Linked DNA regions of Homo sapiens. The main gene of each other region encodes a partner of the protein of the gene in region 2 in a complex. Each region holds a gene or a part of one and is shown on either strand. Other genes may lie near its edges. The genes, in order: ADGRD1, GNA13 and S1PR2.

The links.
Region 1: the proteins of GNA13 (region 2) and ADGRD1 are in contact, whole or in part, in a cryo-EM structure (PDB 9V0U), measured with the Homo sapiens proteins. Residues at the interface, in NP_006563.2 of Homo sapiens: Val49, Val216, Phe218, Phe359, Val362, Lys363, Asp364, Ile366, Leu367, His368, Asn370, Leu371, Gln373, Leu374, Met375; in NP_942122.2 of Homo sapiens: Asn599, Arg601, Leu657, Met660, Val661, Ile662, Val664, Phe665, Ser667, Val737, Ile738, Ile741, Ala761, Val764, Asn810.
Region 3: the proteins of GNA13 (region 2) and S1PR2 are in contact, whole or in part, in a cryo-EM structure (PDB 7T6B), measured with the Homo sapiens proteins. Residues at the interface, in NP_006563.2 of Homo sapiens: Arg47, Val216, Phe359, Lys363, Asp364, Ile366, Leu367, His368, Asp369, Asn370, Leu371, Gln373, Leu374, Met375, Leu376, Gln377; in NP_004221.3 of Homo sapiens: Ser66, Met68, Tyr69, Leu72, Arg130, Ala133, Ile134, Lys136, Val137, Lys138, Leu139, Tyr140, Tyr209, Ile212, Val216, Ser219, Gln227, Thr228, Leu231, Leu232, Val235, Tyr288.

The regions. Positions count from the first base shown.
Region 1 is NC_000012.12:130,984,811-130,991,914, reverse strand, and holds part of ADGRD1 (adhesion G-protein coupled receptor D1 isoform 1 precursor), read right to left. Parts: intron 4,821-7,104; coding exon 4,566-4,820; intron 1,290-4,565; exon of another isoform or gene 902-1,289; coding exon 837-901; exon of another isoform or gene 778-836; intron 1-777. UniProt on the Homo sapiens protein: Adhesion G-protein coupled receptor (aGPCR) for androgen hormone 5alpha-dihydrotestosterone (5alpha-DHT), also named 17beta-hydroxy-5alpha-androstan-3-one, the most potent hormone among androgens. Also activated by methenolone drug.
Region 2 is NC_000017.11:65,046,637-65,053,740, forward strand, and holds part of GNA13 (guanine nucleotide-binding protein subunit alpha-13), read right to left. Parts: intron 7,093-7,104; coding exon 6,866-7,092; intron 1-6,865. UniProt on the Homo sapiens protein: Guanine nucleotide-binding proteins (G proteins) are involved as modulators or transducers in various transmembrane signaling systems.
Region 3 is NC_000019.10:10,228,234-10,236,015, reverse strand, and holds the start of S1PR2 (sphingosine 1-phosphate receptor 2), read left to right. Parts: upstream 1-4,684; 5' UTR 4,685-4,812; intron 4,813-5,530; exon of another isoform or gene 5,531-5,603; intron 5,604-7,782. UniProt on the Homo sapiens protein: Receptor for the lysosphingolipid sphingosine 1-phosphate (S1P). S1P is a bioactive lysophospholipid that elicits diverse physiological effects on most types of cells and tissues.

The DNA.
Region 1 (7,104 bases), on a different chromosome or scaffold from region 2:
TCCGGACCTCAAGTGATCCTTCTGCCTCGACCTCCCAAATTGCTGGGATTACAGGCATGAGCAACTGTGCCTGGCTGCTCTTTTTTTTATTTATAGAGATGGGGTTTCACTGTGTTTCCCAGGCTGGACTCGAGCAGTCCTCCTGTCTCAGCTTTCTGAGCAGCTGGGACTACAGGTGCAACCACCACACCCAGCTGGTCAAATGTTTTTATACCATGATAGTAATATAGCTCCTACCATGTATCTGACACTTTTGTGAATATTTTGCTTATATTAACATTTCATCCTCACAACAACCTTACAAAATAAGTCCCCATTTGATGGATGACACTAAGCGCAGAGAGGCTTACTCAAAAATAAGTGGTAGAACTTGGATTTGAACCCAAGCAGATGGGTCAGAGTCTGTGCACTCACTATTATATTAACGTTCTCAAGAAAGGACAGTTCTTTAACTACAAACACTAATTCCAGACAAGAATTTTTCTATATGAATTGAACTTTTCTCTAACATCAAACGAAAAGGGCATAGAGAGAAGCCAAGCAGGGCAGATTCCTCACTCCCCACTCACGGCGCCCACGTCCCATGAATGAGCCCGGTATTTCCTTTTGGGCACCTGAGGTTCCTGGTGGCAGGAGTTGAGAGTTTTCCCTTCAGTCACTCTTAGCACCAAGAATTAGTACTGCAGTTGGCTTCCCCTCCATTTGTTATTTCTTCCCAGACAATGTACTGCCGATAACAGAGAGCCCAGACACCTAATGGAATTTTCTCTCTCCCAGCAAACAGCCCAAGCAGAAGAACATCAGCAAGGGGGACCAAGGAAGATGTGTCTGCTCACCACGGGGCTTGCTGTGGATGTCATGAAGAGGCTTGGCAGCGTTGAAGACAATAAAGCATGCTTTCCTGGAAGAAACAATGCTGGATTAAGGACTAAAACATGGTCACTTTTTTCACCACGAGGAAGACCTGTCCTTGTTAAAAATGTACTGGCTTCAGACACATGGAAGAGAGTCTGAGAATGTTTTGAGTAGGAATGTTGCTGGAGATAAATTATGGGCTAAGAAATCAGCTGACTGAGTCGACCGTATAGATTTTCCCAGGTCACATTACTTTTCCATTTGTATTCTCAATCGCTTTTGAACACCCTTCATGCAAGTCAGCATATCAAAAGATGATTTTATACAAGGATTACCGATTTCAAATAAATAAAGAACCAAAAGAAATAGATTTCAATTGCATCCAGACTGGTTGGAGATAAAATGAGGAGTGCTACAACTCGCTGGGCCAGCACAGACAGGAGCCCTGGGAGCGCTCTCCTCTGAGATCGATGAAGTGAGAATAGGCCCCAGTAAAGCAGTGGAGAAAACTGTCTTCCTGAGCCCCCTCTAGCCCAAGGATTCCAGCTATTCTTTGCACTCAGCCCCCATGGGGTTAATGATGAATTATTACAAACAATGAAGACATTTAAGGCTGAAGACTAAGCCATGATTTGCTGTTCTCTGCCTGTTCACCCCCAACTATTTCTAATCCCACTATTTCCTGATGAGAACACACACTTAACCAGATATTCTACTTCATTTTTGGAAAATCTCTTGAAGTTGCTTTGGATGAGCTGAGGAAATGACATCATCACCCCTTGCTGGCTGCAGGAGTGACTGAGCCCTTGGGTTTGGGTGGGGTTGGGCTGCTGGTGAACGCAGAAGGTGTGGCGCTGCCGAGAGAACTGGACCCCAGAACCGCTCTGTTCTCCAAGTCAGAGTGACATTCACTCCTCAGGTGCCAATGAGTTACAGAGGAGTCATGTCAAACTCACATTTAACTCGTGTGTGTCCACAAAGCAGAGTGAGGGATAGTGAAAATCGGTCCAGCGATCCTGCCAACGCTTGCAAGCGATGACCATGGAGACTGGGGTGAAAATGAGAATCTGCCAGGTCCTCAGTCGGTCCCAGTTCCCACGTGTTGAGTGTGTTTCCAGTGCCCAAAGGTACATGCTTTCCGATTACACGTATCTGAACATAACCTTCTTCCTCCTCTACAGAAAGAGCTGCTGTCCATTCCAGTGGTAAGGGAGAGGGGACACCTGGCCAGGGTGACAGACGGTCAGCACTGTGCCTTTGTATCAGGAAAGGCCACCACACCTGGACGGACCGGTCAGCAAATGGTGCCAGCTCTGGCTCATGAGATTAGAGGAGGTGTCACCTCTGCCCAGGTCACTCAGAAAAAAGCCCCCTCTGGGCACCTACAGCCCCAGCACAGCTTCAAATGCAGACAGGTCTTCATGTAAAGAAAGACTTCTACCTACTTGTGTGGCCATGTCCCCACCGAGGCCCGGCCTGGCTGGGAGCAGACTGGATTTCAGTTCCAGTTGTCACTCTGCATGGCTGCCCTGAACTCGGCTGTGTCAGACTCACTGAGCAGTGGTACACGGGGCCCCACACAGGCCTTCCAGGGACTTCAAGAGCCATTCTCCTATACATGCTTTACGTCGTATGCCTTGTCTTCAGACCAGGTCACCAGGTGCAATGGGATTCTGGTCGATCCAGTTCTGGTTCAGTTCTGGTTCTGGCGATGAGGGTTTGCTCTGACAAGAACAAGAACCAGAAACAAGGGCACCTCTTTCCAGTGTTACTAAAACAAGTAAACTGTCAGGAGGGCAGGCTTTGTTTGAAGCTTTTCATAACATAAATACAAGTGATATCTTGGTTTCAAAGTGACAACTCTAAACCCTAGGCAATAAAATGCAGTAGATTGGTCCATTTTTTTCTTCTGAAGGATGCTATCATTTGCCCTCTGTCAGTGCTAGGAGAGGGAATGCATTCCGTTTTCCTGGGTGGAAGCTGGAAGATGTAAATGTCGAAGGCTGTAGTGGACACAGGCTGTTTTGCCTGCACAGCATCTGTTCCTTCTGAGACCAGCATACCTGATTGTCCCCTGGGAGTCCCCTCTCCTCCACATGTTCTGGACAAGGCTGACCTCACTGTCATTTCAGGGGGGCTGGGGATGGGGGACTATGACAGAGACCTAAGCCAGTCAGCATATTCTGCACTCCCAGACACAGAAAATGACTCATGGAAGGTGCATGGATAAATGTGAGCCAATGTGAGTCCTGCCCAGCCCCAGCATGGGAAGTGATAAGAGAAAGAAGCTCCCTCTTTTCCACAGAGGCTGCTGAGGGCAGAGGATGCAACACTAGAAGCATGACAGCCACCTTGGCACCAGGAGGAGGCTAACAAAAGAGGGCAGGGTCAAACGCAGAGATTCCCACTGACATCATGTGAGCACCTGGACCAAACCAGTTCTGAAGCAGTTTCCCCTAGAGCTTCCATTGCAAGAGATGAAAAAGAAACACATGGCTTTCTTGGCTAAAGTTATCTTGAATTGGGTTTTCTGTCATGCAATCAATAGGGTCCTAACAACTGAGGGACTCAACGTCAGAAGCGGAACGAGGGCAGGCAGCGTCTGGAACTCAGGCCTTTCTCTCCTGGTCCTGACATCCGCTGTGCTGGGTCCCAATGAAGCAGCAGCCACATGTTTGTGAGTGCCTACATGGGGTCTGTCATTTTTTAGCAGATTATTTTATGTGGAAATAAAGAAACCCATTGGGGAAAAAATGGTGCATTCACTTGTGGGCAGCATGAAAATGGAATTGTAGGGGAAAGATGAATATTAATTTTAAAAACAGCTAAGAACCACTGGATTCTTGCCATATGCCAGGCATTGTGCTAATGGCCTTTATTATCAACACCTCCCCCAGAAAGGGAGTATTTTTATCCATTTAACAGAGCAAAAAAAAAATCTGAGAGATTAAGACAAAAAGGTTATACGTTACACATTTCCATTTATGTGGAATCTCCAAAATAGGTAAAGACAGAAAGTAGATTCGTGGTTGCCAGAGTCTGGGGGAGGGGAAGGCGGGGAGTGACTGTACTCACCGGGTGCGGGGTTTCCTTTTGGGGGGATGAAAATGTTTCCAAGCCAGGTAGAGGTGGCAGCTGCATAACACCGTGAATGTGCCAAGTGTACTGACTTGTTCATTTTTAAATGGTTATGTTTATGATATATGAATTTGACCTCAGTTTTTAAAAATGACTTCCCAAAGTCTCACGGCTCATTATGGCACAATGAATATTTGAACCCCAGTCCACCTACCCACAGGCCCCTGCCCCGAACAACTGCCCTGTGCTGAATAGGAAGAGGTATCTTCGGGGCTTTCCAAGGGCCCATCCCCTGGGAGGCACACGGCTAACATTTGTTGATCAAAAACACTAATGGATCTGGAATACTTGCTCTCCAAAGCCTTCTATAATCGTCCATCACATATACCTTGAAACCCCGTGATGATCAACAGAACAATATTCATCTCAAAGCATCTCTAGTAAATTATTAACTCCTCTATCTCAGGGAACAGGTGTTCTAACACACAACTGTGTTTATAAGGTTCATTAGGACACATCTCACGCCTGCAGTGCTGATAGCTGCAACGGGAGAGTGGGGAGAAAGGAGGCCGATACCAGGGTGACCCTGGGAACAGACAGCGGATCTGCCCCAGCCCTTCACACTCACTGACCAATGGCAGCAGTGAAGTACATGGCGATCTCATCCGGAGTCAGAGCCCGCTCCCAGATGATGAACTCATCGAAAGCACCGTTCTCATAACACTTGGCCTGGTCCTGCTCAGACCCTATCACGAGGTTGACGTTGGACTCTCCATAGTCACGAGACACTTTTCCACTCGGATCAGAGGTGCTCAGGGTCCCGTTGACGTAGACTTTCAGGCCCTCCTTGGATTTCCATGTAAATAGGACATGAGTCCAATAGGGGCCTGGAAAAGAGTGAAGATCGCCATTCTGAGTACTGTGGGAATGAGCTCCCCATGCACAGGTTTTTCCTGTTTGTAGGCACATCCTTCTTTCTTAAGGTGATCAATCACTGTTAACTGTGGTGCGTCCTAATACAAGGTATAACACAGACCTGACTTTCCCCAGTCCTTTGGAGCACAGGAAGGATGTTATCTTTTTGTCCTTATGCCCTAAATTCCAGAAGCAGTTCAAGGAGACTCCTTGTTATTTTAACATAGTAGTTACAAATTCAAATGCCCACAAGCAAGTGTGATTAAAATATTTGAAAAATGGCAGGGCACAAGTGCCAACCAATCAGACCATAAGCTCAGTTAAGAAAAAATGGTCAGGAGCGAGACAAGGATGTCCCCTTTTACCACTCCTTTTTAACATTGTACTGAAAGTCCTAACTAATGCAATAAGGCAAAAAAGGAAAAAAAAGGAAATAAGAATATAAATATTGGGAAGGATGCAATAAAACTATATTTATTCACAGATGATGTGATTGTCTATGTAGAAAATCCAAAAGAATCAACAACAAAGCTGAAACTAATGAGTGAGCATAGCAAGATTACAGGCTACAAGGTTAATATACAAGTCAATTGCTCCCCATCTGCCAGCAACGAACAAGTAGAATTTACAATTAAAAAACACATTACCATTGTCATTGGTGCCAAAAAAGGAAAAAGAAATACATATATTATAACAATACATTTATAAGCTATATATAAAGAAAACTATATAACTCTGATGAAAGAAATTAAACAAGAACTAAATAAATGGAGAGATATTCCATATTCATGGACAGAAAGACTCAATGTTGTGAAGATGTCAGTTCTTCCCAAATTGATCTATATATTCAACACAATCCCAATAAAAATCTCATCAAGTTATTTTGTGGATATTGATAAACTATGGAGAAGGAAGAGAGCCAGAATAGCCAATACAATATTGAAGGAGAAAAACAACATTGGAGGAACAACACTACCCAATTTCCAGACTTACTATAAAAAGTTACAGTAGTCAAGACAGTGTGGCATTGGAAAAAAACAGATGAATAGATCTGTGGGACAGAATAAACAGCCCAGAGATAGACCAATAAAAATACAGTCAACCAATCTTTGACAAAGGAGAAAAGGCAGTACAATGAACAAACAGAACCATTTGTTGCAACAAATGGTGCTGCAACAACTGAATATCCACGTTCCAAAAAATAAAAAGAATCTTGGCCGGACGCAGTGGCTCACGCCTGTAACCTCAGCACTTTGGGAGGCCGAGGCAGGTGGATCACCTGAAGTCAGGAGTTCGAGACCAGCCTAGCCAACATGGCAAAACCCCGTCTCCACAAAAATACAAAAAATTAGCTGGGCGTGGTGGCAGGTGTCTGTAATCCCAGCTACTCAGGAGGCTGAGGCAGGAAGAATTGCTTGAACCCGGGAGGTGGAGGTTGCAGTGAGCCGAGATCGCCCCATTGCACTCCAGCCTGGACAACAAGAGCCAAACTCCATCTCAAAAAAAACAAAAAAAAAATCTTAAACCTGTCATAAAAATTAATTCAAAATGGACTATAGGTCTAATATAAAATGCAAAACTATAAAACCCTTAGAAGATAATATAGGAAAAACATCTAGATGACCTTGGGTTTAGTGATGACTTATTAGATCCAACACCAAAGGCACAATCCATGAAAGAAATAATTGACAAGCTGGACTTCCTTACAACTAAAAATGTCTGCTCTGTGAAAGACACTGTCAAGAGAATGAGAAGACAAGTCACGGATGGGGAGAAAATATTTGGAAAAGACATGATAAAGGACTATTATCCAAAATACACCCAAAAACTCTTAAAATTCAACAGTAAGAAAACAAACGACCCGCATTTTGGGAGGCTGAGATGGGAGGATCGCTTGAAGCCAGGAGTTTGAGACCAGCCTGGGCAACCAAGTAAGACCTCACCTGTACCAAAAAAAAAAAAAAACTAGTGAGACATGGTGGCACATGCCGGTAATCCCAGCTACTTGGGCAACTGAGGTAGGAGGATCACCTGAGCCCTGGAGTTAAACGCTGCAGTAAGCTGTGATTGCACCACTGTACTCCAGCCTGGATGACAGATCCTGTCAGAAAGAAAAAGAAAGAAAGAGAGAAAGAGAGAAGAGAGGAGAGAGAGAGTGAGAGAGAGAGAGAAGAGAAGAAAGAAGGAAGGAAAGAAGGAAAGGAAGGGAGCAAGGGAGGATGGAAGGCAAGAAGGAAGGAAGGAAGGGAGGGAGGA
Region 2 (7,104 bases):
GCAGGGAACATTCAATCCAAGGAGTCCTTTGGCCATTATGCTTTTCTTTAAAGTAAGCTCACAAACCTTTTTCCTGGGTTAGGTCCACGCTCTAGGTAAAGAGTTCTGAAACTAAAGTCTACTTTTCATAACAAAACTATTTACTTGTTCCATCTCTTAGTTGTTTAATAAACATTTTCAGAGAATCATAAATTATTGTGCCCCTAGCTTTGTTTAGCAATAAAAGGTAATATAGAAAGCAGCACAGTATTTTCCAATTCCGGAAGCTTTAGCACCAAGAACCCAGACATCCTACAGCCAGTCAAGTTTTCACCCAAAAAAATGCGAACATGAAAATTTCAACATAATAGAATACAAGTGATACCACCTATGTGTGCATGCACACACACTTCACAAAGTTGTATTAAAACTATAAGTGTAAACTTAAAGGAACTGACGGAAATTTTAAAAAAGAAATTAATTAAAAAGAAAAAAACTTCATTTTTAACGTAAATAAACATAAAGCTCTGGGTTTACAAGATTTGGATAAAATGTAACCACTCTGACATCTGATCAATTTCATCAAAAGGAAATTAAACTCAACTTTAAAATCTCTACTATCTCTGGCTGGGTGAGGTGGCTCACTACTGTAATCCCAGCACTTTAGGAGGCTGAAGCAGGAGGATCACTTGAGCCCAGGAGTCCCAAGGTTACAGTGAACTATGATCACACCACTGCACTCCAGCCTGTGTAACAGAGTGAGACTCTGTCTCTAAAAAATATTAATAAAGTAAGATAAAAACCTCTACTATCTCTAATGTTATATATAATCTTTATTTTAGATGGGATGAAATATTTAACACTAATCCTAGAATCAAAAGATAACCAATAGGTTTTTAGCAACTCAAAGTCCTTGCTTGACTATACTTATAGAGAAAATGGACCAATCATCCAAAAGAAACATAGTATTTTACAACTGAAAGTAGCAATTCTTTAATATTTAAAGCAAATCCAAATTAGCATTAATTAATAAATGACTCTGATTCTTTTTTTTTTTTAAGAGGGAGGGGGCTGTCCTCACTATGTTGCCCACATTGGACTTGAACTCTTGAGGTCAAGCAATCCTCCTGTCTCCCCAGAAGCTGGGACTACAGGAGCTTCAAATGACTCTTGATTGTATTATATTTCCAATACATGCTGCAGTGCAAATAAATAAATAAAAAAAATTAGCTGAAACTGAAGTTTCTAGAATACTTAGTTGGACCTCCCCTTTTTACAGGCCAATCATGGAGCTAAATGGTTACTTTGTTACACAGATTGAGGGAGTAAATCTCTGTGTTAATGAATACACTATCTTATCGGCTTCAAGAAGAGTAACCTCAAGCACAAAAAGAAAAGAATTAAGTCTAACTGAAGGTACCATGATTAGCAAAAACACTTTGGTTTCAGGAATTGCAAAGACAGACTGGCCATTACAGGAAGTTGTATTAATGCTGACAATGTTAAACTGTTTACAGAAAGTAGGAAGCTGTGGGATGTTCCTCCCACTGTCACACACACTGTCCTGTCCTACGTAACAAGTGTTGCCTTATTTCTCAATAAGTGAATATAAATTAAACAAAAAAAAATAGTTGGAAATGACTCCTAGCCATTTTGTCAGTTTTCATCCATATCTCCAATTGTATCATCCAGCCAACCCCTGACTCCCATCTCTTTATTCATCTGAGTTACCAAATTATCTAGCTATTGTCACATAAGAAGGTTTTCTAAAGACAGGGTAACTCAAAAGTGCAGTGGCAGGCTATGTTGAATGTACAGCCAGAGTAGAGTATTTCAAATATTTAATTCAGTACTAAAACAGGCCACTTCTTACAATCTATTATCCTCAGTATGCTAATTTATAATAACTAGAAAGGTACCTTAAGTTATAACGAGAATGTGAATCTTGTATTTTTCTTTTCCACAGTAAGCTATTTAGCTGACCCATGATGGAACTAACCAAAAAAGGAAATGTTTACCTTTGGGAACTTAGAAAGAAAAACATTCATGTTTACACCCAAAGTTATTACTAACAAATGAGTAGTCTGCTAAAAACCTAAGCTGTGTTATCAACACCCTATCCCTTGTCCCGAAAATTGATTAAAGGGCAGTTGTTCATCTTAGGCAAAATGTTAAGTCATGTAGGGCCTTAAAACCTGTCAGTTTTTAATGTGCATTAATAAGTTTAATAATCAAATCATTAGTTGAAACGAAAAGGTTAATTTTAATTTTAGTTATTTTATCTGCTAACCTCTATTTCTTCTGATGTTTACCTTTCCTATCCAAAATTCAAAAATATGCTGCTAAACATAACAAAACACATTTCAACCCCCCCAAATAAAAATTATAATTACACAAGAACTGTCCACTTCCTAGAAAATTAGGAAACTATTATAGAAATAATCCATATTTCCCAGAAGGAACTTAATGTAGAATTAAATTATATTACATATTTTTTAATTTTTATTTTTTTGAGACAGGGTCTCACTCTGACGTTCAAGCTGGAGTGCAGTGGCATGATCTCCACTCACTGCAACCTCCACCTCCTGAGTTCAAGCGATTCTCGTGCCTCAGTCTCCTGAGTAGCCAGGACTACAGGTACATGTCACCATGCCTGGCTAATTTTTGGTTTTGGTTTTGGTTTTTGGTAGAGATGGGGTTTCACCATGTCAGCCAGGCTGGTTTCCAACTCCTGACCTCAAGTGATCTGCCTGCCTCAGCCTCCCAAAGAGCTGGGATTACAGGTATTTTATTTTTTTAGAACATCTTTGTAATTAAGAATGTCTGAAAAACGAGGAAATAAAAGTGTCAGGCACTATGCTAGTAGGAGAGAAAAAGACAAACTAGGCATACCAAAGGACTTCTACATGACTGACAGCCACACATGAAAGCTGTGACTCTAACACACATAATGGGTACTGTGAGGAGTGACAGGAGTAAGCATGCTAGGGAAAGCAAAGGACACGGAGATCTCCATTCTAGCCAAGAAGACTGGAGATGCTTCAAATAAAGAGACACAGCCCCTAAGGCACTGTTCCTGGGGAAAGGGAGGGGGCATGGAGCAAATTCATCCAAACCACCTATGGCTATTTGCTGAAAACACAGATCACTGGGTCCCATCCCAGAATCCAGAATCAGATCCTCAGGTATAAAGTCTGAGCATCTGCTTGTTTGTTTTAACAAGCATTCCAGTCCATGGGGTCCATGGGCCACATTTAGTGTGATTATCACTACATTAAGTGAAGGGTAAGACCTAGTAACAGATAGGGTAAAGAATAATTCTGGCAGAGGGACTACGCATGATGAGAGCTATAGAAGCAAAAAATTAGGGTATGTGGGAATCAAGAGATTACAGAGTATGTCCAGTGGCCTAATGAAATATATTGCTGGAATCACAGGTAAGCTAGCTAGAGTCTTTACTCCCACAAAAAAGCTGAGCTCTGTTCTGAAGACAATGGTGAGCCACCAAAGCTTTCTGAGCAAACCAATGCTGTGTTTGAACAAGACTGCCTTGGAGTCCAAGCAAGAGGTAGCAGAACACAAAATAGAGGAAAGGAGGGAATGAATGCAAGAGACGTTACAGAGGTAGAAAAATCAGAACTTGGGGAGCTGCTGCATGTAGATGAGTAGATGGAATTGATGATGACTTTGAGGAAAATTTTAAGTAAGCCAAGTGCCTTCTCAGTGCCTGACACTATGCCAAGCACCACAGCACATCCAAGAGTTTAAGAGTCATTAAGTCAACATAATAATGGAGCATCTCTATGTGTCAGGTGCTATTAACAATGCTGAAGCCACGCACAGTGGTTCATGCCTATAATCCCAACATTTTGGGAAGCCAAGGCAGGAGGACTGCTTGAGGTCAGGAGTCCAAGACCAGCACTGGCAACATAGCAAGACTCCGTCTCTACAAAAATTTTTTTTTAAATTAGCTGGGTGTGACGGCACACACCTGTAGTCCTAGCTACTTGAGAGACTGAAGCTGGAGAATCACTTGAGCCCAGGAGTTGAGTCTACAGTGAGCTATGATCACAACAGGGCACTCCAGCCTGGGCAACAGTGAGACCTTCTCTTAAAAAACAAAAACAAAAAAACAAAAAACAATGCTGAGCGTAGACTCAGGAAAAAAGAATCTCTGTCCTCCAGAAGTTTAAAATTAGGTCTTGCTCTGTTCCTCTTTTCTTGTCTCTACTTTTCATCATGGAAAAAAGTATTTCTGGAACTTATCTCTCCTCATCTTTGAGGACTTCTTTGCTCCTTAAGGATCAACTGGCTCAAGTCAACAACAAGCAGGTCCTCATCCTGAGTGGTTTTACCTATTCGTTCTTAATCACAAAGATATACTTAGGGATGCTTTCTCAACAATGAGGACATGACAGTCCTGATGTGAGACAGTTAGACGTCAGCTTCCAAATTAAAAAACTGTCCATGAAACACAACTTTAATTAAATGGACTTAGGGCAAATACGGAACTTCCCCACAGAGAACTTTCAGGTATGCAGTTCTTTATTTATTCATTTAATCCATATGCACTGTATGCTTATTACAGATGAATGTTTCTTCTCTGACCTGGAAGGATGAATAGAGCCTGACAAAATTGAGTTGAAAGTGTGTGGTTTGTTGAGAAAATGAACTAAGAAGAAAGGAGAATAAGCAGCACTTAAAAACAGGAGGTAGATGGCCAGGCACAGTGGCTCATGCCTGTAATCCCAGCACTTTGGGAGGGCAAGGCAGGCAGATCACCTGAGGTCAGGAGTTAGAGACCAGCTTGACCAACATGGAGAAACACTGTCTCTACTAAAAATACAAAATTAGCCAGGTGTGGTGGCGCATGCCTGTAATCTCAGCTACTTGGGAGGCTGAGGCAGGAGAATCGCCTGAACCCAGGAGGCGGAGGTGAGCCAAGATCGCGCCACTGCACTCCAGCCTGGGCAACAAGAACAAAACTCTCAAAAAAATGCAAAAAAACAAAAAACAGGAGGTAGAGTGATGGGCGATGGAAAGGGGTATATGGAAGAACTCATGCAAGCAAATCTACCAAAAATAAAGTAATAAACATTGATCAAGGGACAAAACTAACCAGAAATCTGGGAATTGGATGGAGGTCATTTGTCAAGTTAAATTCATCATTTTCAACATGCAATACTGGCAGCTACGTAATTTTAACAATAATGTGAGACAGTCCCTGCCTTTCAGAAATAAACACATTACTTGAAAAGACAAGATACAAACATGATAGAAGAGAACTATACAAGACGGTAAATAATCAAATGCTAGTTGAATGACAGATATAAAAGCCATAATTCAGATATAGTCAAAATTAAGGTGTCAGTTTTATAAAAAGCTATCGTGAACACTTTCCTGGAACTTTTAAAAGGCAAGACTGCTTCTAAGTATAAATAATAACAGCAAGGACTGCTGGTTGTACATCGCTTTGCAGCCACACCCATTAATGTGGATTAATGTTGGTGACATCATCAAACAACTTCCTAAGCAGCTTATTTATTTTTTTTTTGGAGATGGAGTTCTGCTCTTGTTGCCCAGGCTGGAGTGCAGTGGCACGAACTCGGCTTACCGCAGCCTCCGCTTCCAGAGTTCAAGCGAGTCTCCTGCCTCAGCCTCCTGAGTAGCTGGGATTACAGGTGCCTGCCACCACACCTGGCTAATTTTTGTATTTTTAGAAGAGACGGTGTTTCACCGTGTTGGCCAGGCTGGTTTCAAACTTCTGACATCAGGTGATCCACCCGCCTCAGACTCCCAAAGTGCTGGGATTACAGGCATGAGCCACCGTGCCCAGCCAGCAGTTTTACTTTTAACTGTCACTTCATTTTAATCATATTAGAGTAAAACACTTCAGATCTGAACTACCTCCAAATTGCACACAGTCTAGATTTCTATCACTGCTGGAATCTTTCTGATCTTTGGCAAATAAAACCCAATCACAGCATTCACAGTTAAATTACAAAACACTTGATTAAAAATTTGTTTCAACTGTATTCTGTATCTTTAACCTGGATTGGATACTTTTATTCCAAACCTGTCTTCAATGCTGTGTAACAGCTACAAAGCATTTTATGGGTAGTCTCGTTAAAGAAAAAAGGGGAAAAATGCCTGGCACAATGCCAGCAATTTGGGAGGTCAAAGTGGGCACATTACCTGAGGTCAGGAGTTCAAGATCAGCCTGGCCAACATGGCGAAACTGCCTCTACTAAAAAGACAAAAATTAGCTAGGTGTGGTGGCACGCGCCTATAGACCCAGCTACACAGGAGGCTGAGGCAGGAGAGTTGCTTGAACCCTGGGGGCAGAGGTTGCAGTGGGCCAAGATCACACCACTGCACTCCAGCCTGGGCAACAGAGACTCCGTCTCAAAACAAACCCCCCAAAAACAAAAAAACAAATTTCTGAGGCTATAATTTTGGATAGATACATTAAATTATGGAAGTCAGTGAAAAAAGTGTGCTAAAATCAGATACAGGTTGAGTGTCCCTTATCCGAATGCCTGGGACCAGAAGTGTTTTGGATTTTGAATTTTTTCAGATTTTTGAAATATCTGCATACATATGAGATATGCTGGGAATGGGACTCAAGTCTAAACTAGAAATTCATTTATGTTTCATATATACCTTAAGATATGTAGCCTAAAGGTAATTTTATACACTATTTTTACACGTAGTCATTAGAGACTAGGACACATTAGGTCTGTGCCTTAGCCTTTCAGTCTGTTCCTCCATCTCAAATACTTTTAGATTTGGGAACATTTCGAATTTTCGCATTAGGGATGTGCAACCTGTATTACTAAACATCATTAAAATAAAACCACACGTTTTAAAAGAGCAAATCTCTTACCAGTTGAAATTCTCGACGCCGGTCATAGGCATTCTGTATGCCGCTGTCTGCCCATAATGCTCTTATAGCAGGAAGATATTGTAAGAAAACCCTTGTTTCCACCATTCCTTGGGCTGCCATGGGGGCCCGGGTATCAAACGACATCATCTTATCTCCATGTTGTTGGTTTGAGTTGTCTCCCCAGGGAATATGAAGCTTCTCTCGAGCATCAACCAGCACCCTCATACCTTTGTTTAAAA
Region 3 (7,782 bases), on a different chromosome or scaffold from region 2:
CTGAAATCGAGCTCAGGAAAAGGGGCAAAGTGTAGAATTGACTAGTCACTTTCTGACTTTCTTTGTATCCCCCCTTCAAAGCCCCATCACCCTGTGTTAGAATTGTCTGGTTTCGGCCGGGCACGGTGGCTCACGCCTATAATCCCAGCACTTTGGGAGGCTGAGGCAGGTGGATCGCCTGAAGTCAGGAGTTCAAGACCAGCCTGGCCAACATGGTGAAACCCCATCTCTACTGAAAATACAAAAATTAGCCGGGTGTGGTGGTGTGCGCCTGTAATCCCAGATACTTGGGAGGCTGAGGCAGGAGAATTGCTTGAACCTGGGAGGTGGAGGTTGCAGCGAGCCGAGATCTTGCCAGTGCACTCCAGCCTTGGCGACAGAGCGAGACTCTGTCTCAAAATAAATAAATAAATAAATAAATAAATAAAAATAATTGTCTGGTTTCTTCTCTGTCTCCTCCATCAGACTGTCAGCTTTGGATGGCAGCAACCAATTAGGCATCACCAGGCTTAGCACAGAGCATTACATGTTGTGTTACATACACACATATATTGCATGCCTATATGTAGCATTAACGTGTTGATTTTTTTTTTTTTTTTGAGATGGGCTCTTACTATATTGCCTGGGCTGGTCTCAGATTCCTGGCCTCAAGCAATCCTCCCGCCTCTGCCTCCCAAAGTGCTAGGATTACAGTTGTGAGTTATCGTGCTTGGCCTGTTGATTTTTTTTTTTTCCAGACAGTGTCTTGCTCTGTCAACTAGGCTGGAGTGCAGCAGTGTGATTTCAGCTAACTTCAACCTCCACCTCTCAGGCTCAAGTGATCCTCCCACCCCAGCCTCATGAGTAGCTGGAACTACAGGCACACACAACCATGCTTGGCTAATGTTTAATTTTTTGTTTTTTCTTTTGTAGAGACGAAGTCTCACTATATTGCGCAGGCTGATCTCAAGCTCCTGGGCACAACTGGTCTTCCCACCTTGGCCTCTCAAAGTGCTGGGATTACAGACATGAGCCACTATCCATGACCAATTTTTTAAAATTTTTAATATATTTTTTGAGATGGAGTTTCACTCTGTCGCCTAGGCTGGAGTGCAGTGGCACGATCTTGGCTCACTGCAACCTCCACCTCCCGGGTTCAAGCAGTTCTCCTGCCCCAGCCTCCAGAGTGGCTGTGACTACAGGCACCTGCTACCACGCCTGGCTAGTTTTTTGTGTTTTTTTTTGTTTGTTTTTTTGTTTTTTTGAGATGCAGTCTCACTCTGTTGCCCAGGCTGGAATGCAGTGGCGGGATCTCGGCTCAGTGCAACCTCCGCCTCCTGGGTTCAAGTGATTCTACTGCCTCAGCCTCCCAAGTAGTTGGGACTACAGGTGTGCACCACTGTGCCCAGCTAATTTTTGTATTTTTAATAGACACCGGGTTTCACCATGTTGGCCAGACTGGTCTTGAACTCCTGACCTCGTGATCTGCCTGCCTCAGCCTCCCAATAATTTTGGTATTTTTAATAGAGATGGGGTTTCACCATATTGGTCAGGCTAGTCTCGAACTGCTGAATTCAGGTGATCCCCTTGCCTCGACCTCTTTGTACATTTTTTTGAATTGGTAATAGAAGCTAAAGATTTCAAACAGCAGGCTGGGCGCAGTGGCTTATGCCTGTAATCCCAGCACTTTGGGAGGCTGAGGCAGGCGGATCACCTGAGGTCAGGAATTCGAGACCAGCCTGGCCAATATGGAGATACCTCGTCTCAAAAAAAAAAAAAAAAAAAAAAAAAAGATTTCAAACAGCCCTCCAGGGTATACCATGAAAAGCTGTTTCTTCTTACCTCGTTTCCCTGCCCCCTGGTTCCTCTCCCTAAGAGTAACTGTTGTGACTAGGGTCTGGTGCCTTCTCCCAGAGACAGACTGTGTGTCACAGGCAAATGTGTGTGTATTTATATAGTTCTTATAAATACACCCAGAAATGCAATGCATACTGGTCTACACTGTACTTTTTCAACTTAATATGTTGAAGACCATTTCCCATCAGTACACACAAGACTACTCCATTTATTTATTTAGTTTTATTTATTTATTTATTTAAAATGGAGTATTGCTGTGTCACCCAGGCTGGAGTGCAATGGCATGATCTCGGCTCACTGGAACCTCTACCTCCAGGGTTCAAGCAATTCTCCTGCCTTAGCCTCCCGAGTAGCTGGGACTCCAGGCACACACTACCATTCCCGGCTAATTTTTGTACTTTTAGTACAGATGGGGTTCGCCATGTTGGCCAGCCTGGTCTTGAACTCCTGACCTCAGGTGATCCACCTGCCTTTGCCTCCCAAAGTGCTGGGGTTACAGGTGTGAGCCATTGCACCCAGCCTCTTTATTTTTATTTTATTTTTTGAGACGGAGTCTTGCTCTGTTGCCCAGGCTGAAGTCCAATAGCACCATGTTGGCTCACTGCAACGCCCGCCTCCCCGGGTTCAAGCGATTCTCCTAACTCAGCCTCCCGAGTAGCTGGGATTACAGGCGCCCGCCACCACGCCCGGCTAATTTTTTGTATTTTTAGTAAAGAAAGGGTTTTGCCATATTGGCCAGACTGGTCTCGAACTCCTGACCTCAAGTGATCCACCCACCTTGGAGTCCTAGAGTGCTGGGATTACAGGCGTGAGCCACCATGCCCAGCCAATTTTTATATTTTTTGTAGAGATGGAGTTACACCATGTTGCCCAGGCTAATCTAGAACTCCTAGGGTCAAGCAATCCACCCACCTTGGCTTCCCAAACTGTTGGGATTACAGTCGTGAGCCACCGTGCCTGGCCAGATTATGTTTATAACATATAATGTCTACATTTTCACAAATGGTACCCTCATAAAAAGCCATATTTCCCACCTGAACATAAGATCCACTGGGTTGGCCAGGCACGGTTGTTCATGCCTGTAATCCCAGCACTTTGGGAGGCCAAGGCGGGCAGATCATGAGGTCAGGAGATCGAAACCATCCTGGCCAACATGGTGAAACCTCCATCTCTACTAAAACTACAAAAATTAGCTGGGCATGGTGGCGCATGCCTGTAATCCCAGCTACTCAGGAGGCTGAGGCAGAAGAATCGCTTGAACCCGGGAGGCAGAGGTTGCAGTGAGCCGAGATAGTGCCACTACATTCCAGCCTGGCGACAGAGCTAGACTCTGTCTCAAAAAAAAAAAAAAATCCATCTGGTCAAGGAGTTTTTCCTTTTTGTTGCTGTTGTTGTTGTTCACTGCTGTGCCCAGTAGGTGCATAAAAAATATTTGTTGCCAGGTGCTGTGGTTTACATTTGTAATCCCAGCACTTGGGGAGGCCGAGGCAGGCGGATCACTTGAGGTCACGAGTTCGAGACCAGCCTGGCCAACATGGTGAAACCCTGTCTTTACTAAAAATACAAAAAAATCAGCCAGGCGTGGTGGCACGCGCCTGTATTTCCAGCTACTTGTGAAGCTGAGGCACAGGAATAGCTTGAACCTGGGAGGCAGAGGTTGCAGTGAGCTGAGATGGCACCACTGCACCCCAGCCTGGGAGATAAAGGAAGACTCTGTCTCAAACAAAAAAATTTTGTTGCTGGAATGAGGGGCTTTCCTATCCTGTTGTCGAACTGCTGGTTACACACACACACACACACACACACACACACACACACACACACATCATTCGATGAAGGTGTAGTGTCCATCATTTCCGCAGGCAGGCACACAGAAATGCCCAGGAATTAGTGAAAATTGGAAATCTGGATAGAAGACTGGGCCCGACGCTGGAAGGCAGGCACAAACTGGGCCCCGCCAGAGGGGACAGTGATCTACAGAGGCAGGAAAGAGTGTGGAGTGTCCCCAGTCCCCCAAGGGAAACAGGGCAGCACCTGAATTCTGGAGGTCCTATCAAGGGAGAGACTGGTCAGGCACAGTGGCTCACGCCTGTCATTCCAGCACTTTGGGAGGCTGAGGCAGTAGGATTGCTTGAATGCAGCAGTTCAAGACCAGCCTGGGCAACACAGCGAGACCCCATCTCTACAAAAAACTGCAAAAAATTAGCCAGGCATGATGGCGCACCTGTAGTCCCAGCTACTCTGGAGGCTGAGGCAGGAGGCTGAGGCTCCCGTGAGCTATGATTGAGCCACCACACTCTGGCCTGGATGACAGAGCAAGACCATGTCTCAAAAAAAGAAAAAAAAAAAGAGATCAATTTTGTCTTTGGGACAGGACATCGCACTTAGTAGGAATTTATTTGTTGGGTGGACACACAGTAGGCACTTAATGCCTATTTGCTGCGTTGACACCTAGTAGGTACTTCCAAGGCTCTTTGTTGAGTCAATAAATGTGACCTCGTGTTTTCTTCCAAGTCCAGGGTCCCAGGGGTAAGCCCAGAGGTAACCTGGGGTTGAAGACAGTTGTTTCAGGTTGAGGCCACCTGGCCAGGAGTACTGTGACGTCACCAGGCTGCGTGACGTTTCGCGCCGGCCGGTTCTCACGGGTGGGGGCTGGGAGGGGCAGAGTGAGAGATCGGGTGGGGGGGGCGGACAAAGGGCCCTCCGTGCAGCTCCTGTCGGCCCCCGCGTGCGCCCCGGCCAGCCGGCCGGTCACATCTGGAATTCATTGCAGCCGCCGCCGGAAAGGGGAGGAGAGGAGGGCGGGGCGAGCGGGGGGCAGAGGCGGCGGCTCTCCGCCCCCCCCTCTGTCCCTCGTCCCAGCCCCGGGACTTAGCCGAGCCCGGCTGGCAACCCCAGCCCCAGCCGCGGCCGCCCTGGGGACGCAGACGCCAAGGCCCCTCCGGCCAGGGCCGGGAGCCGGGCCGGCCTAGCCAGGTGAGCGCGCGTGGCGACAAGGAGGCAGAAAAGGCGGGCCTGGTCCCCTGAGGTCTCGGGATCCGAGCTGAGGGGCCCCAATCGGGGGGCTGGGGCGCGCACGCGCCGCCTGGGTTCCTGCTGCACGGAGCGGGTGGTCACAGTGCGCCCTCTCCAAGAATCCGGGCGGCCCCCACTGCCTCGGCCGCGAACCCGCAGACTGTGCTCCCCGCCTTTCTCAGCGGCAGGAAGTTGGCGCCGGGGAGAAGGCTGAATCCGAGCGCTTTCGACTGGAGTCTTTGGGAGGCAGGACGCCGTGCTCGGGGACCGGGGTCTTGGGGAGTGTGTTTGGGGGGGGGCAACACCCCTCCTGGCTGACTCCGGCTGAGCGAGGGCAAAAGGATGTGCGCGCCGTGGAGCCTCCAAGCCAAGGGGCGGCACCCACGGGGAGGGCGGTCGGACGTCGGGCTTTCTGCCTCGGTTTCCCCAAGTTGTTTGCCTCCTCCGGTCCCCCGGCGGGGGGCGTGGCTTTGTTTTGTAAGGAAAGAGAAAGTGACTGCGTGGCTCAGACGCCTCCTCTTTCAACTCCGGCTCAGGGATGGGTCGTGGGTGAAGGCGCGCGTGGCGCGGACCTCGCGTGGCCCCGAGCCGGGCGGAGCGTCGGAACTCGCCCCCTTCTCAGGCACGGGTTGACTCACCCGGGGATTTCCACCCCCTCCTCTGTCTCTGTCCTTGTCAGATGCTCCGGGCCCCACGCGCTGAGCCCACAGTCCCCCTCGTGGGGCGACACGGCCAGGCGCGGAACTCGCGGTGCAGCTGCTGCTGCGATCTGGTCCCCCACCCCCAGTCTTCCCAGAATCTCGAGGCGGGACCCCTGGCGGGACGGAGAGGAATCCTTCCAGTGCCGCTTGGAGACGTGGGGGCCCCGCGCGTGTGGCGGTCTCGGGGGCGGGGGGGAGAGGAGGCGTGGCTCCCGCGCGAGCGAGCGTGGATACCGCGCATTCCTAAACCAGATAAGGAGGCCGAGAGTGCGGGCCAGCACGGGGTCGGGTCCTGCTGCCATCTCCATGGAGACACGCTGGGCTTTGCCTGGTTGATGGTGGGCGATGGGGGCGCTGCCCGCGGACCAGAGGTGTCTCCAGGCTCCTTTGTTGCTGTTTGGGTCTGGGCTGAGCTTAGGAGTTTCCACCCTTGGGAACCCACTAGGGTCTCCTTTGTTCATTGGTTCATTCATTCATTCATTCATTTGCCCATTCCACACGTTTTCTGAGTGTTTTATTTGTGCCAGGCATCCCTGTAGGGGCTGATAACTGACTTGCTCCCTGGCCTTAGGCATTGACTGTCTAGGTGGAAGCCAGACAGAAAAGGAAAGATATCATGATAGTTTCCCATAGTGGCAAGCGCTGTGCAGATAATAAAACGAGATTCTGTGATTAGAAAAGGCTTGGAGATGGCTGCTATTGTAGACTGGGGGTCAGGGGAGTCCCCTCTGAGGAAGTGACCTTTAAATAGAAAGGTCACTTTCTATAAGGTAGGGTGGCTACCACGGGCTCCATGGGTGACCAGGGGGAACTGTAACCACAGGGCCTGCCTTTCTGAAAGATGGGGAGACAGTCATTCAAAGATTTGAGGAAAGGCCAGGCGTGGTGGCTCACGCCTGTAATCCCAGCACTTTCCTAGGCTTAGGCAGGTGAATCACCTGAAGTCAGGAGTTCCAGACCAGCCTGGCCAACATGGTGAAACCCCATCTCTACTAAAAATACAAAAATTAGCCAGGTGTGGTGGTAGGCACCTATAATCCCAGCTACTCAGGAGGCTGAGGCAGGAGAATCGCTTGAACTCAGGAGGCAGAGGTTGTGGTGAGCCGAGATCACACCACTGCACTCTAGCCTGGGCAACAGAGTGAGACTCTGTCTCAAAAAAAAAAAATTTTTTTTTTGAGAAAAAGAGTGTGCCCCAAGAAGAACAGCAGGGGTAAAGGCTTGGAGGTAGGGGTAGGGGTAGCATGGAGGAGGTTTAGTGTGGTTGGAGTGGAATGGCCCTGGGGGAAGAGTGGGAGGAGGCTTCATCGGCAGGGGCCATCCTACTTGGGCTATAGGGAGCCATGGAAGAATTTGGAGTTGGGGAGTGACATGGAGTTACAAGTTTAAAAGCTCCCCCTGGCTGCTTGGTAGAGAATGGCAGGGTAGGGGGTCCTGACAACCACAGAGAAACCAAAAGGTAGGGTGGCTACCACGGGCTCCATGGGTGACCAGGGGGAACTGTAACCACAGGGCCTGCCTTTCTGGAACTGGGAGTGGGTGGAGAGGACCTTGGAAGCCACTGAGGCTTCCTCCATCCTTCCCCTCTCCTAATCTCCAGACAAACAGTCGTCTGAGTCTATCTCTCTTCCCTTCCTTCCAAACCCCATCACTTGTCCCTCCTGTTCCATTTCAGGCCTGGACATTCTATGTGAGCCCAGTGGCCTCTTTCTGAGCTTCTGAGAGGGAGTCAGGGCAGACTTGGTGAAGGTGACCGGGAGACAGGCTCTGTGTCCTTCTCAAAACCTGGTAACCTTACACAGGGAGGGGACATGGGCTAGGCCACGCCATCCACCTAGGGGGTGACTCTTCTGCCAGCTCCAACCTCAGTGCCCTGCTTCCTCTTTCTGGGAGGCGTCAACCGCCCAAGTGCTTGCCTCAGTAAAGTCCTAGTGGTTAAGATGAGTCTTGGATAGAATGTGGGCCTCAGTTTCCCCTTCTCTAGGAGAGCTGCTTCTCCCTCTGTGAATGCCTTAGCCTCCCCGGGCTGCAGAAGGTGAGAGTGCAGCACCCCCAGTCTTCCTCTCAGGGAAAAAGACAGACTGCTTAGTTAGTCCCTGGGGTGCAAGGGCTGAACACATTTCATTTTGTTTTGTTTTGTTTTGTTTTGTTTTGAGACAGTCTCGCTCTGTCACCCAGGCTGGAGTGCAATGGCTGCGATCTTGGCTCACTGCAACCTCTGCCTCCCGGG